Homo sapiens: one gene and its partners. The protein of the gene in region 1 purifies or fractionates together with the protein of each later gene. This does not show direct contact. Each region holds a gene or a part of one and is shown on either strand. Other genes may lie near its edges. The genes, in order: LIMCH1, RFC2, CUTC and FGL1.

Evidence for each region.
Region 2: the proteins of LIMCH1 (region 1) and RFC2 purify together in Homo sapiens (affinity purification with mass spectrometry, with the first as the bait; one large-scale study listed by BioGRID). This does not show direct contact.
Region 3: the proteins of LIMCH1 (region 1) and CUTC fractionate together in Homo sapiens (co-fractionation; one large-scale study listed by BioGRID). This does not show direct contact.
Region 4: the proteins of LIMCH1 (region 1) and FGL1 purify together in Homo sapiens (co-immunoprecipitation; one large-scale study listed by IntAct). This does not show direct contact.

Annotation. Positions count from the first base shown.
Region 1 is NC_000004.12:41,646,105-41,649,675, reverse strand, and holds part of LIMCH1 (LIM and calponin homology domains-containing protein 1), read right to left. Parts: intron 3,554-3,571; coding exon 3,396-3,553; intron 3,192-3,395; coding exon 2,783-3,191; intron 1-2,782.
Region 2 is NC_000007.14:74,244,368-74,247,938, forward strand, and holds part of RFC2 (replication factor C subunit 2), read right to left. Parts: intron 2,397-3,571; coding exon 2,295-2,396; intron 1-2,294.
Region 3 is NC_000010.11:99,749,206-99,752,776, forward strand, and holds part of CUTC (copper homeostasis protein cutC homolog), read left to right. Parts: intron 1-1,163; coding exon 1,164-1,191; intron 1,192-3,571. UniProt on the Homo sapiens protein: May play a role in copper homeostasis. Can bind one Cu(1+) per subunit.
Region 4 is NC_000008.11:17,878,511-17,882,081, forward strand, and holds part of FGL1 (fibrinogen-like protein 1 precursor), read right to left. Parts: coding exon 3,489-3,571; intron 1-3,488. UniProt on the Homo sapiens protein: Immune suppressive molecule that inhibits antigen-specific T-cell activation by acting as a major ligand of LAG3. Responsible for LAG3 T-cell inhibitory function. Binds LAG3 independently from MHC class II (MHC-II).

The DNA of each region.
Region 1 (3,571 bases):
AAAGTAGAGTGGTTTTGAGAGGGAGCTGTGCAGTTAGGTGACCTGATTGAAACCTGGCTCTACCATTTAACAGGCATGGAATCTTCAACAGGTTTCCTATTCTCTGTGCTCTGATGCAAAATTTAAAGTAACAGTATCTTCCTCATAGTGCTGTTATGGAGATTTTATGGATTATCAAATGTACAGAATTTAGAACAGTACCTGACACATTTTAAGTGCTTAACTATTAGCCATTATTATCATTAGGCCTCTTATTTATGTATTTATTTATTTTTTGAGACGGGGTCTCACTCTGTCACCCAGGCTGGAGTGGAGTGGTGTAATCTCAGCTCACTGCAGCCTCCACCTTCCTGGTTCAAGCAATTCTCATGCCTCAGCCTCCCAAGTAGATGGGATTACAGGCGTATGCCAACATGGCTGGTTAATTTTTGTATTTTTAGTAGAGACAGGGTTTCATCATGTTGTCCAGACTGGTCTCGAACTCCTGGTCTCAAGTGATCTGCCTGCCTCGGCCTCCCAAAGTGCTGGCATTACAGGTGTGAGCCACCTCGCCCAGCCTCATTAGGCCTTTTAAAATCTTTTAAAAGAAATAATGGAAGGCTGGATATTAGTTATAGTTTATTTACCTTAAGCCACTGGTCTTTTTACTCTATTATTTGTTACCCATAAAAAGAAATTTAAATCACAACTCAGCACACACACACACACATAAATATAACTGAAACAGAAGTTGCCCCAAGCAATTTTGCCTTCATTGTGTGACACACTATGTTTTTTTATTATATTCTATTCTAGTTCTTTTTTTTTTATATTGGCTTCAAACCACTAAACTGATTTTATAACCTAGCAACGGGTGGTAACTTTCAGTTTGAAAAACACTGCCTTAAACTATTTCTCTTGATCTTCCTTTATTCTTAATTCTGTTGTACTGGAAAAACAACGGGGCCTGTATTCCCTGCCCTGCCCTCCAAGAAGACACACACACACACACACACACACACACACACACACACACACCCCTACCCCTTAGCTTCTGTCCTGGCATTATTAGCTGGTAACAACGGTCTGATTTGCATGTTACTTTGACCTTTGACCAAAGTTGCTGTCCATGCACTCAGTAATGGAACTGTAGGCCATCAGTAGAAATACTAGCCAGTGAGGCCTACAATGAGGCAGGGGACCCCCACTAGTGAGTGATGAGGAGTAATCTCCAGCTCTAAGAGGGCCTCTGCTCAAATTCTCTAATAACCCCCTCCATGGAAGTGCTTCCTGAGGCCGCCATACCACCTTGCTCCACTTTGCCGCCATGGTGAAGAACAGAGTTTTCTCAGAGCTGAAGTTCTGCCATAAAATCATTTATGCTAATCCTTCTGTTTAAACGATCACTTTGCACTATTTAGATAAAGGAGGGAAAGTGGACATCTAGAATGTTTGGTCAGATGCCTTGGAAATCCAGTTAAATAAATGTATTCTCTATCCTATTCTGGGCCACCTCAACATAGAATCTTCCTTCAGGAAATACCATAGCCATTCATTATCATAGGCCCTAGGTGAAGGAAAGCTTCTGAAACACTTAGGTGGACCACTGAGCACACATGAGCATGTGTGTGTCTATCTGTGTGTGTGTGAGTCCATATGATTAGTAGCTCATCTTCTCAGGAAAAATTCACTTATTTATTTAAGGAGCACTTGCTGAGTGCCTACTCTGTCCTGGGCACCTGTGCCAGGCTCTCAGGATGAAGCCATGAATGACAGAGACATGGCCCCTGCCCTTATAAGGGGACAAACAGCTCAATGTGATCCAGATGAGACAGTCTGGACATTTTTGTTCTATCAAAGCCTAAGATAGAGATTTTTGAGATACATTCAGAGTTATTTCAGCAAAAGTCAGAAAGTGTGGTTTTGTTCTCTTTGAAATACAGCAAGGAAGCTACGTGGCATCACACTGCTCAATCAGTTACGAAAACTTTTCTATCTAATGGTCACATCTCCAAGTGATGCATTCCACCTCTGTTTATTACAAACTCATTGAGTGCAAGGACAAGGGGAACTGATTTTTCTTTACAAGTCAAAAGAACTTAAGACAAAGGATGAGTGCTTCCTCCTGATATAAGAGAAAGTACTTGAATTTGAGGAAGCGAAAAGATGTTTGGTTTCCACAAGTTCTTCAGTCTGGAACACTATTTTACACACTCATTAGCAAAACAACCCAGTTTCTTTCCACTTGTTTAAAAAACCTGTCTCATTTGAGGACCAAGTATGTCCCATGTTCCCATGTGTTCCTTGTATTTTTATCAATTGTAAAATCTTTTTGGATGCTACAATGTCAAATGGATGCTGAATGCCAATTTCTTCCTAAAAGAGAGGTAGCTGCATATACTTCTATTTGAACCAAAAGCAAATAAAATTTTGTTTTGAGGAGTCTGCCATACCTCCTGATACCTAGAAATACTAGGGTATTACTAAATTAGGGTTTTTACCACTAGTACAGAGAAATCATGCCATTATATCAAACTAGAAAATAGACCTTGCTCATGGAGACGACTCCACTATCAGTCTTATAGGAGTCCATCTGTATTAACAACAGCAATTGAGGGAAACAGCTGTCCCTGAAGCATTTACAAACCAAATCTCCAGAGACCTATGACTTTCACAGCTGTAAATGTCAACACATTTTTCTTTTGTATGGTAAAAAGAATGACATTTTCTTGAGTCATGATGCTTCTTTCCATCCACTCCCTGGAGTTCAGCTTTGGTTCTACTCTTAAGGAACTTGTCCTACCTTAAAGGTCTTCAGAACATCTTGAGAATTTTTGGGCTGGGAGTAAGGCTTGGGTGTCAGCATAGGCACTGCTTTGGGAGTGACAGTTTTGCTTGGAGACCCACTGCCTGCTGACATGCTGGTATCCAGAACACTGGCACGAGCAATGGTGGTTTCAACAGTGGCAGTGAATTTGGGTGGAGGCAGTGACTGTTGCCGCAGGTATTTCATGGGATTGGGGTCATTCAGGAAGGAGGATAAATTTGGCTCTGTTGAATGGCTTCTTTCCAGAATTTTTGGCATCTCCAAGCGTTCGAGAACAGCCTCACTGATGGTGAACCTCTCAATGTACTGTTGAAGGATCCCCTCTGCCTCCTCCTGGGACCGAGCGTTCTTATATGCTTCATGCAGCTCTCTCTCTCTCCGCTCTCTAAAGGACATGGGAGAAGCAATAACAAAGTCAACTAATGAAAATTGCAAAGAAGACCTTGGTAGAAACGAAGGTAGCACTGAAGAGATAGTACAGGGAATATAAAATGTTACTATCAGAACCTTTGTGACAGCCAATAATTTTTAGAAAAAAAAAACACCTAGATAATATTGTACATTAAAAACGACAACAGAAAGAACTCACTTTTCTTGAACAATTTCTCTGTAGGTTTTGATGCTTTTCCTTCGTTCACTTGTCCCATCTTCTCCAGCCAGTAACTTCTCCATTTTTTTCCTTTCTTCCTCTTTCTTGATTAAGTCCTGAGAAACACTTCTTCTACGACTCTTCCAACGAGCCAGGTCCTGGCAGGGAAAGAAAGA
Region 2 (3,571 bases), on another chromosome or scaffold:
TTTGAAACAGAGTCTTGCTCTGTTGCCCAGGCTGGTGTGCACTGGCACCATCTCAGTTCACTGCAACCTCTGTCTCCCGGGTACAAGCGATTCTCCTGCCTTGGACTCCTTAGTACCTGGGATTACAAGCACCATTGCATTCCAGCCTGGGCGCCACCATGTCCGGCTAATTTTTATACTTTTAGTAGAGACGGGGTTTCCACGTTGGCCAGGCTGGTTTCGAACTCCTGACCTCAAGCAATCTGCCCGCCTCGGCCTCCCAAAGTGCTGGGATTACAGGTGTGAGCCACCGCACCTGGCCCTAAAAAAAATTTATTTCGCCAGGCACAGCACCTCATGCCTGCAATCCTAGCACTTTGGGAGGCCGAGGCAGACAGATCACTTGAGGCCAGGAGTTTGAGACCAGCCTGGGTAACATAGTGAGATCCTGCCCCTGTGAAAAAAAAAATAGCTGGTTGCAGTTGCACAAGCCTGTAGTCTCCGCTACTTGGGAGGCTGAGGTGGAGGATCATTACAGCCGAGGAGTTCAAGGTTGCAGTGAGCTATGACTGTGCCATTGGACTCTAGTCTGAGTGATATAGTGAGACCCTGTCTCAAAAACTACAACAAAAAACAACGTTATAGGGTTAGGGTTCTATATTCTTTTCTTAATGTCATTTCAATTTTTTTTTTTTTTTTGAGATGGAGTTTCGCTCTTGTTGCCCAGGTTGCAGTGCAAATGGCATGATCTCAGCTCACCACAACCTTCGCCTCCGGGGTTCAAGCAATTCTCCTGCCTCAGCCTCCCAAGTAGCTGGGATTACAGGTATGTGCCACCACACCTGGCTAATTTTGTATTTTTAGTAGAGACGAAGTTTCTCCATGTTGGTCTCCATCTCCCGACCTCAGGTGATCCGCCTGCCTCGGCCTCCCAAAGTGCTGGGATTACAGGCATGAGCCACCGAGCCTGGACTCAGATTCTTCATTTATACCAACCGAAGTGTTGTGATGGTTGCACAACATTGCAAATGTACTAAATGCCACTGAACTGTATACTTCAAAATAGTTAAAATGGTAAATTTTGGGCCGGGCGCAGTGGCTCACACCTATAATCCCAGCACTTTGGGAGGCCGAGGCGGGCGGATCATGAGGCCAGGAGATCAAGACCATCCTGGCTAACACAGTGAAACCCCGTCTCTACTAAAAATACAAAAAAATTAGCTGGGCGTGGTGGAGGGCGCCTGTAGTCCCAGCTACTCGAGAGGCTGAGGCAGAAGAATGGCGTGAACCCAGAAGGTGGAGCTTGCAGTGAGCCAAGATTGCGCCACTGCACTCCAGCCTGGGCGACAGAGCAAGACTCCGTCTCACAAAAAAAAAAAAAAAAAAATTTATGGTTAATTATGTCCATTTAACCACAATAAAAAAATTTACAGGCCAGGCACAGTGGCTCACACCTATAATCCCAGCATTTTGGGAGGCCGAGGCGGGTAGATCACCTGAAGTCAGGAGTTCGAGACCAGCCTGGCCAACATGGCGAAACCCCATCTCTACTAAAAATACAAAAATTAGGCCAGGCTCGGTGGCTCATGCCTGTAATCCCAGCACTTTGGGAGGCTGAGGCGGGCGGATCACGAGGTCAGGAGATTGAGACCACCCTGGCTAACATGGTGAAACCCCTTCTCTACTAAAAATACAAAAAATCAGCTGGGCGTGGTGGTGCATGCCTGTAGTCTCAGCTACTCGGGAGGCTGAGGCAGGAGAATCACGTGAACCCAGGAGGCGGAGGTTGCAGTGAGCTGAAATCGCACCACTGCACTCCAGCCTGGGAGACAGAGCGAGACTCTGTCTCAAAAAAAAAATAAATAAATAAATACAAATACAAATACAAATACAAATACAAAAATTAGCCGGGTGTGGCGGCAGATGCCTGTAGTCCCAGATACTTGGGAGGCTGAGGCCAGGGAACCGCCTGAACCCGGGAGGCGGAGGTTGCAGTGAGCAGAGATCACACCACTATACTCCAGCCTGAGTGACAGAGAGAAACTCCATCTCAAAAAAAAAAAAAAACAAAAACCCTCATTTAAATTATTAACGTAAGAGATGCTGAAACCAGCACATTAAATGAATGACTATCTTAGACAAATGTTTGTAAGTTACTTAATAAAGATAAGATTTAAGGTGCAGGCCCCTATTAAATTGCTTGTGGAAGATATGATAAGCAAATCTACCATAAAAGTGCTTTTTATCCTGATTGAATAAAACCGAAAAAGAGATTTAGAGATCAAGGTCAAAATACATTTGGCAAAGCACTCTACCTGTCTGCTTCATCCAGAATGATGATCTTATGTCGGCCTTTGGGAAGAGTGACTTTTTGTTGAGCAAACATTTTAATTTTATTCCTCACAACGTCAATGCCCCTGAAAGAATGACAGGTTTTTACTGGCACCTTCTGAGACCAATTCAGTTGCCTTCACAAGGACTTTTAAACAATCGGTATATCAGGGACTGTGAGGCCCAATTTCCATTTTTGAGTTTTTTTGGGGGGCAATTGTAACTATTTATAAGGATTGAGATTTTATGGCATTTGTTCTTTCTTGGAGGTCTTTCAAAGAACAAAGAAAATATACACTTTTTTTTTTTTTTTCTTCAGACAGGGTCTCGCTGTGTCATCCAGGCTGGAGTGCAGTGGCCCTCTTGGCTCACTGCAAGCTCTGCCTCCCAGGTTCAGTGAGCCGGGATCACGCCACTGCACCCCAGCCTGGCGATAATTCGTCTCAAAAAAAAAAAAAAGCCTCATCCTTCAGTTTTTTAACTGCATTGCTTGAGATACCATATTATCTTTCAAAAGATGTAATAGAAGTGCAGATATACCACCTTTGTTATCTTGTAAGCTTTCACTAACCACAGCCAAGAATTCAAAATTTTTCATTCTCTACCCACAACAGGAAAGAGAAAAAAATTGAGAGGAGGACTCTTCCTAATTATTAGGTGAATCAGAAAATAACTGCAATGTAGGCCAAGCATGGTGGCTCACACCTGTAATCCCAACACTTTAGGAGGCCAAGGTGGGCGGACCACTCCAGGCCAGTTTAAGATCAACCTGGCCAACACGGCGAAAATCCATCTTTACTAAAAATACAAAAATTACCTGGGCGTGCCCGCGCACGCCTGTAGTCCCGGCTACTTGGGAGGCTGAGGCACGAGAATCGCTTGAACCCAGAAGGCAGAGGTTATGGTGAGTCGAGATCGTGCCACTGCACTCCAGCCTGGGTGACAGAGCAAGACTCTGTCTCAAAAAAAAAGAAAGAAAGAAAAGAACAGAACAGAACAGTACAGAACTGCAGAGACACCAATAGCAACATTCTAAATGCTACTGATGGTGAAATTGATCAATAAGCAAAATCTCAGACTATGAATCTTCAGATGCCAATATCCTCCAGACATTTTCCCTAACTGAAGAATCAAGGAGTGAACAATATGCAGCTGTCCCTTGGTGTTCCTGGGGACTGGTGCTAGGCCCTTCCTCAGACACCAAAATTCACTTTTGCTCAAGTCCCTTATATGAAATGGTATAGTATTTGCATATTAACTT
Region 3 (3,571 bases), on another chromosome or scaffold:
GTTAAAGCATAGGCTTTGTGATTGGACAGGTCTGTGTTTAAACCCTGGCTTTGACCCTTACTAATAGTGACCATGGATACATTACCTAGCCATCCTAAACCTCAGCTTTGCTCTTCTGCAAAGTTAGGATAATAATAGCACCTACCTCCTAGAATAGTTGTGAGGGATTTCTTCAGGTTATAGCACTTAGTAATTGTTCTATATTATTAAATCTGACATTTAGTGACTGCTCTATATTATTAAATCACTTTGATAGCCTTAGATAAGCATATACTTCTAAATAATCTTGTATGGAAGGCGAAAAGAAATGGTAGAATTCATTTCTTTAAAAATATTATTTCTCTATGTTTTGGAAAGCCTTGATTTGGAAGAAACAGGCAAATATGACTTTTTTCCATTCTGAAGTGATTTCAGCTTTTTAGATAGTCAATGTTTTGTTTTATGGATGCTTTGTTCAGGCCATTTGAGAATATGAAGCATCCTTGTTCCATTTATTTCCCTAACAATTTTTAAATTATTTGAAATAGCCACTCCCCTCTTTCACTCTCTTGTTAACTTTATTTTTTGCTTTATTTATTCACTTGCTTTATTTTTTCTTTGTTATACTTATTGCTACCTGGAATTTTATTGTATAAATATCCCTGTGCATTGTCTCGTCTTTCTTGAATGTGTAAGCTCCATGAGAGCAGGAACTTTCTCTTACTCACCATGTCAGGGAGGAAAAACTTTTCTTCTATCCTCAGGGTTTGTTATTGGGGGCCTGCAAATTAAACTGACTAAAGACAGATTAGCAGGAGTAAAAAGAGATTTTATCACATAAGTACATATATATGTAAGTACATACAGAAGTTCACAAAGAAATATGACTTAGAATTGGGGGCTTATATACCATCTTAATAGGTGAAGGGGAAGGAGAAAATGGCACTTATTGGGGGGGAAAATGACTTTTTGGAAAGATAATTTTCTAGAGACAAATTTACTATGCTGGACATCTTACTTGTCCAAGATCCCAAAGAAATAGAGAAGATCTAGTAAAAATTAAACATTAATAGTAATTTTTAAAATTTAATATATTCTGACTTATGTTTCTATTCTCACTGCCTTATTATCCCATTCAAGAGAAAGATATTAAAATTCACTTGTTTTTTTTTTTCTTTTTTCAGGCAAAAGGCAGGATTGTGGTAATGCCAGGTATTTATTTATCTATCAATTCACTAGCATAACACTGAACTATAGTGGAGGAAGAGCAAAGGAGGCAGGAAAATGTGAGAGAGAGTATTAGTACATTACATATTAGTACATGATCTTTAAAGAGAAGAATATATAGTTTGATTAAAATGTTTAAAACTGGGAGATCTGTGCTAGAATTTAAAAGTTTAGATAAGAAGGAAAATATTGTAATAGGCATTAGCTCAAAGAGGAGCAAATAAGGAAGCAGATAGAGATTGAGGTTTCTCCATATTTGCTCTCCCATTATATAGAACTTTATGAATTCAGATGTTCATCTCTGGTGAGGCACATCAAATTTGATGCTAATCATATTTTGTTTAGGACAAATGTCCTAATAAACAGGGTTTAAGCAAAGGTTTAGGCAACATCCTTGGGTAAAATATAATACTGTCTCAGTTCCTGAAAATCTCTGATTGCCAAATTATTTCTTGTAACCAGAATTTAATCATATGATCCTGATGATAACCATAAGATCAGTTAAGTTCATAATGGCTAACTAGAAATGAACAGTTGGAGCAGTTTTTAAAGAATTAGATAATACAACATAGAAGAGTGAGACAAATGTAAAGACAATCTTAATTTTTTTAATTAAGTTTCTCAAACATATAAAAAAGTAGAAAATAGCATAATGAATACTCATATGCTCATTCCCTAGATTTAACATTTTGCCAAATTTGTCTCATCTTTTTTCTATCCTGAGGTATTTTATTAAAGTTAAATTGAAAGCATCATGGCATTTTATCTTTATTTATCTCTAAAAAGGGTGGGATGTTACCATAATGACAATTCCATTATCACATCTATCACAATAAACATTTAATACTCAACTTTCTCCAATTGTCCCCACAATGGTTTTTATAGCTGATATGTTCAAACTAGGATCCAGTCAAGGAACAAGCATTACATTTTTGGTTATCTTTTGTTTGTTTGTTTGTTTTTAGAGATGAGGTCTTGCTATATTGGCCAGGCTGGACTTGAACTCTTAGCCTCAAGCGATCCTCCTGCCTCAGCCACCCAAGTAGCTGGGACTACAGTTGCACGCTGCCATGCCCAGTTCTATTATCTTTTAAAATATCTTTAATATAGATGTTTTTCCTTTTATTTTTCTTGCTTTAAAAAAAAGTTACATTATTAAGTTTGGGCTGGGCCCAGTGGCTCACGCCTGTAATCCCAGCACTTTGGGAGTCTGAGGCAGCCAGATCACCTGAGGTCAAGAGTTCGAGACCAGCCTGGCCAACATGGTGAAATCCTGTCTCTACTAAAAATACAAAAATTAGCCGGCCATGGTGGCATGTGCCTGTAATCCCAGCTACTTGGGAGGCTGAGGCATGAGCATCACTTGAACCAAGGAGGCGGAGGTTGCAGTGTGCTGAGATTGCACCACTGCACTCCAGCCTGGGTGACACAGCAAGACTCCGTCTCAAAATAAAATAAAAGTTTGGATCACTTACCCTGTAAAATGTCCTACTTTCTGGATTTATCAGATTATTTCCTCATGATATTGTTTAGCTTGTTCCTCGTGCCTCTGTATATCCTATAAACTAATAGTTAAATCATGAGGTTTGAATAGACTCTGCTTAAATATTTTTGGTCAGAATACTTCATGGGTGATTCTGCATACTTACATCATATGACATCACATCAGAAGGTATTCAGTCTCTGGTCATCTCACTACTAGTGATGTCAAGACTGACCAGCGTTCAAAATAGTGACACCTAGATAAAGAGTAACTTTTAAAAAGAGGCCGTGAACCTGGGCAATATAGTAAGACACCATCTTTACCAAAACGTAAAAAAATTAGTTGGGCATGGTGGCGTGCTCCTGACGTCCCAGCTACTCTAGAGGCTGAGGTGGGAGGATTTCTTGAGCCCGAGGTCAAGGCTGCAGTGAGCTATGATCGCACCACTGCACTGCAGCCTGGGCAACAGAGTGAGACCCTGTGTCAAAAGAAAAAAAAAAAAAGGCCATATAAGGGGTATTGTCAGATATTTAGGAAGGCTTTGACCTATAACAAGCCCTTGAAACATAAGCAGAGAGAAAGTATATATTATCTGTCAAATTGTGGTCCTTTTTGGTTAATCAAGGAATGTTAAAGAGACTCTGAGTGTGATGCTTTTCCATTTAGCACTAAATATATATAGTTTTGACAAGTAATACTTAGACAATTGTTGACATTAAGAGTACCTTTGTTTAATATGCAATTGTTATCAGCTGTGTGCAAGGCATTACTTGGGATGCAAAGCTACACAAGAAACTACGTTCTCAAGAAGCTGACTCAGGTCAAAAGATGTTACATACAAAAATATTTGTGATTAATTTCTTTAACAAACCTTATCAGGTA
Region 4 (3,571 bases), on another chromosome or scaffold:
TTGTCAAGTGAACGGCGGTGGTGACGCCAGATTTTTGTTCTTGCCACCAGTTAATGTGAATTTGACACAGTAACCTTTTAATTCATAATCCGCTAGCACCCAAATTCTTTAAAAAAAGATACAGCTTAATAGTATGCTGTAGAAAATCATGTGCCTAGTGCATTGTTTGCACAAATTGCTAGGTTGTATGTAATTGGGTGTTTTCTACCATCAGATAAATTAGAATTCAGAAAATAACTAATTTAGTAATAATAAAGTAACTTGTAAATAAGAAGAAAAGATTTATATTTCTACAGATTATATGTATGAATATTTAATTGTTTTCAATTTAAGGACACCAAAAACATAAACTTTGAGGTGAACAAGTTCTTATATATTTTATACCATATTATATATATATAAAACACTATACTTTATTGGAATTTTTATGTTATATATTTTATTTATTGAGTATCTGTTCTTAGTAGCCTCTCCAGTACTATCTCCCTATATGCTAAAATATAAAGAACAATTGAACTGTGTTTATATTTTATTTCCCCTTTTTCTTCTTCATGCTTGTAATTAATATATGAAAAATATTGTTTTAATCTACTGAATTCTGATTTTTTTGGCTTTTATATCAAAAAACAGTCATCTAGAATTCCTATCATCTGTCTTATTATTATAACAGTATTATATTTATAATAATTATAATGTTTTTTCTGAAGCATCTCTATATGACTCTTCTAACTCCTGCTTGTACAGTTAATCCTGCTCTGACCTTGGCATCGTAATTTCCAAGTAACTGATTTCTTGCCTTATTCCTTGGTGACCCCTTACTTCCCAAAGTCTGCTCCCCAGCAGTGTCAACACAAGGACTGGATCTTCAGCTCTTGATATGATTTGGATGTGTGTCCCCACCAAATCTCATGTTGAGTTGTAGTTCCCAGTGTGGGAGGGAAGGCCTAGTGGGAGGCGATTGGCTCATGGGGGTGGAGTTGTCATGAATGTTTTAGCACCATCTCTCTTGGTACTCTACAGTGAGTGGTGAGTTCTCATGAGATCTGGTTTTTGAAACAGTGTCGCACCTCCTCCCTCTCTTTCTCCTGTTCCCACCATGTGAGATGTGCCTGCTTCTGCTTTGCCGTCTGCCATGATTGTAAGTTCCCTGAGGCCTCCCCAGAAGCAGATGCTGCTATGCTTCCTTTACAGCCTGCAGAACCATGAGCCAATTAAACCTCTTTTCTTTATAAACGACCCAGCCTCATTCATTTCGTTATAGCGGTATGAGAACGGACTAATACAGCACTTAAGCCTCAGTCTTCCCATGACTGGTTGTAGAGGCCTGGGAACAAACATCTGATTAGCTGCCCCCTGCCATGATTGACCCTTGAGTCTGTGCCAATAACCTGCTCAGAATGTGTTCAAATAGAAACCCCAAGTCTTGGGCTTGGTTTGAAATTTGGAGTAATGATGATCCACTGGCATCTACGAGTTCCTCGCCCTTGAGATCAGCTTTGTATGTTCTTTTGGGATCACTTATCTGTATGCTCATCCCTTAAACGATAGTCCGTTTGCTTCCCAAGCCCATTTTTACCCGAACTGTCCCTGGTTCCTCTTGGCTCCAGAGGCACTGGCCATCTTCAGGCTATAGCCATCCCCACTACTGCAGACCACTGGCTCTGGCCTCTTTCTGATCTCTAAGGGCCAGAGGGAGGGCAGTTGGATCAAGATGCTGGCCATAAGAGAAGCAGGAGCCCAGGGCGAGGAGTCTGAGCAGAGGGAGATAAGGATCTTGGTAGAAAAAAAGGGAGCATTTTAAGAGTCTCATGCGCTACAGTGTGAGCCAGCCAGGTGCCCTGAAGCATTTTATGGAAGCATAGACTCTCACAACTCCTATATCCTACACTTGTATGATTAGAAGCAGAAAATAAACATGTTTCTATTCCCATAAGATTGGCAACTCTTTGACCTCTACAGTCTTTCAATTCTAGTCAAATAGGTGTCCGAATTTATATTTGCTTATCTTGCTATTCCTCTCCCTATGAACTACCTTCCTTTCATTCCTGAATATGAGGATCTACTATGTTTCAGGCACTCTAATAGCCAACAGGGAGATAAAAGTACATTAAATATCATTCTAGACCTCACAGAGTGCCCAGTTAATTGACCTCAATAGACTCATAAACAGAAATTACAATGTAGCATGGTAGTGCTAGAATAGACATATGGACAAAGTGCTTTCGCTAGCATTCTTTTTGTTTCTGACAATCGTCGTTTACTCTAAAAGATACCTTTTACTTCTGGAGGAATTCAAGTGAACAGTTTTCCATAGAGAATAATGATTTGTGCAGCAATGTGTGTAATGTGTTGCCAGTTTAAAATCATTTAGTTTCTGGGGAGAAATACCTCATTGAAAGGAACATTATGAAATCAGAAAATATACATATAAAAAACTACTCTTTTATTTTCCTTAGTAATTCTGGTTCTTTTTCCTTTTTCTGCTCCTTTATTTTTTACCTTATTTGCCACCCTAATGCACATTAGGATTTCAGAAGGGAAAACTGCATACATGCAACAAGGAAAGATACACAAACACAAAGCTCAAATGCAAAAATTCCCAATTGTAATCTGCCATGTGTACACGGATTTTTTTTTTTTTTTTGAGACAGAGTCTTATTGTGTTGCCCAGGCTGGAGTGCAGTGGCACGATCTTGGCTCACTGCAACCTGCGACTCCTGGGTTCAAGTGATTCTCCTGCCTCAGCCTCCCAGGTAGCTGGGACTACAGGCACCTGCCACCACGCCCAGCTAATTTTTGTATTTTTAGTAGAGATGGGGTTTCACCATATTGGCCAGGCTGGTCTAGATCTCCTGACCTTGTAATCCGCCCACCTAGGCCTCCCAACGTGCTGGGATTACAGGCGTGAGCCACCGCACTTGGCTGTGTCCATCAGTATTTAAACAATCTATTGTCCTGATTTCTTATTAAATGATATAAATTCTCAGATATTTAGCATTCACATTAAATGCCCTGGCAGAGATAGAAAAAAGTAAAGTGTCGGCTGGGCACGGTGGCTCACGCCTGTAATCCCAGCACTTTGGGAGGCCGAGGCAGGCGAATCACAAGGTCAGGTGATCGAGACCATCCTGGCTAACATGGTGAAACCCTGCCTCTACTAAAAATACAAAAAAAGTAGCCGGGCCTGGTGGTGGGCACCTGTAGTCCCAGCTACTCGGGAGACTGAGGCAGGAGAATGGTGTGAACCTGGTAGACGGAGCTTGCAGTGAGCCAAAATTGCACCACTGCACTCCTGCCTGGGCGACAGAGCAAGACTCCGCCTCAAAAAAAAAAAAAAAAGTAAAGTGTGAAAGAAGACATTTACAATAGATATAATGCTTCATATTGCTTGTTACTGAAATAGGAAAAGCCTGAAATAACTAGCACCATCACTGTACATGGGTGCATAATGTAAGTTATAGAAACACTTAAGAAAAGTCCATTCTGACCTGCATACTGCCTCTTGCTTCCAAGATCAATGACAGTATTCTCATCTCCTTTATCAAGGAACTGGACTTCATTCTCCTGCAAA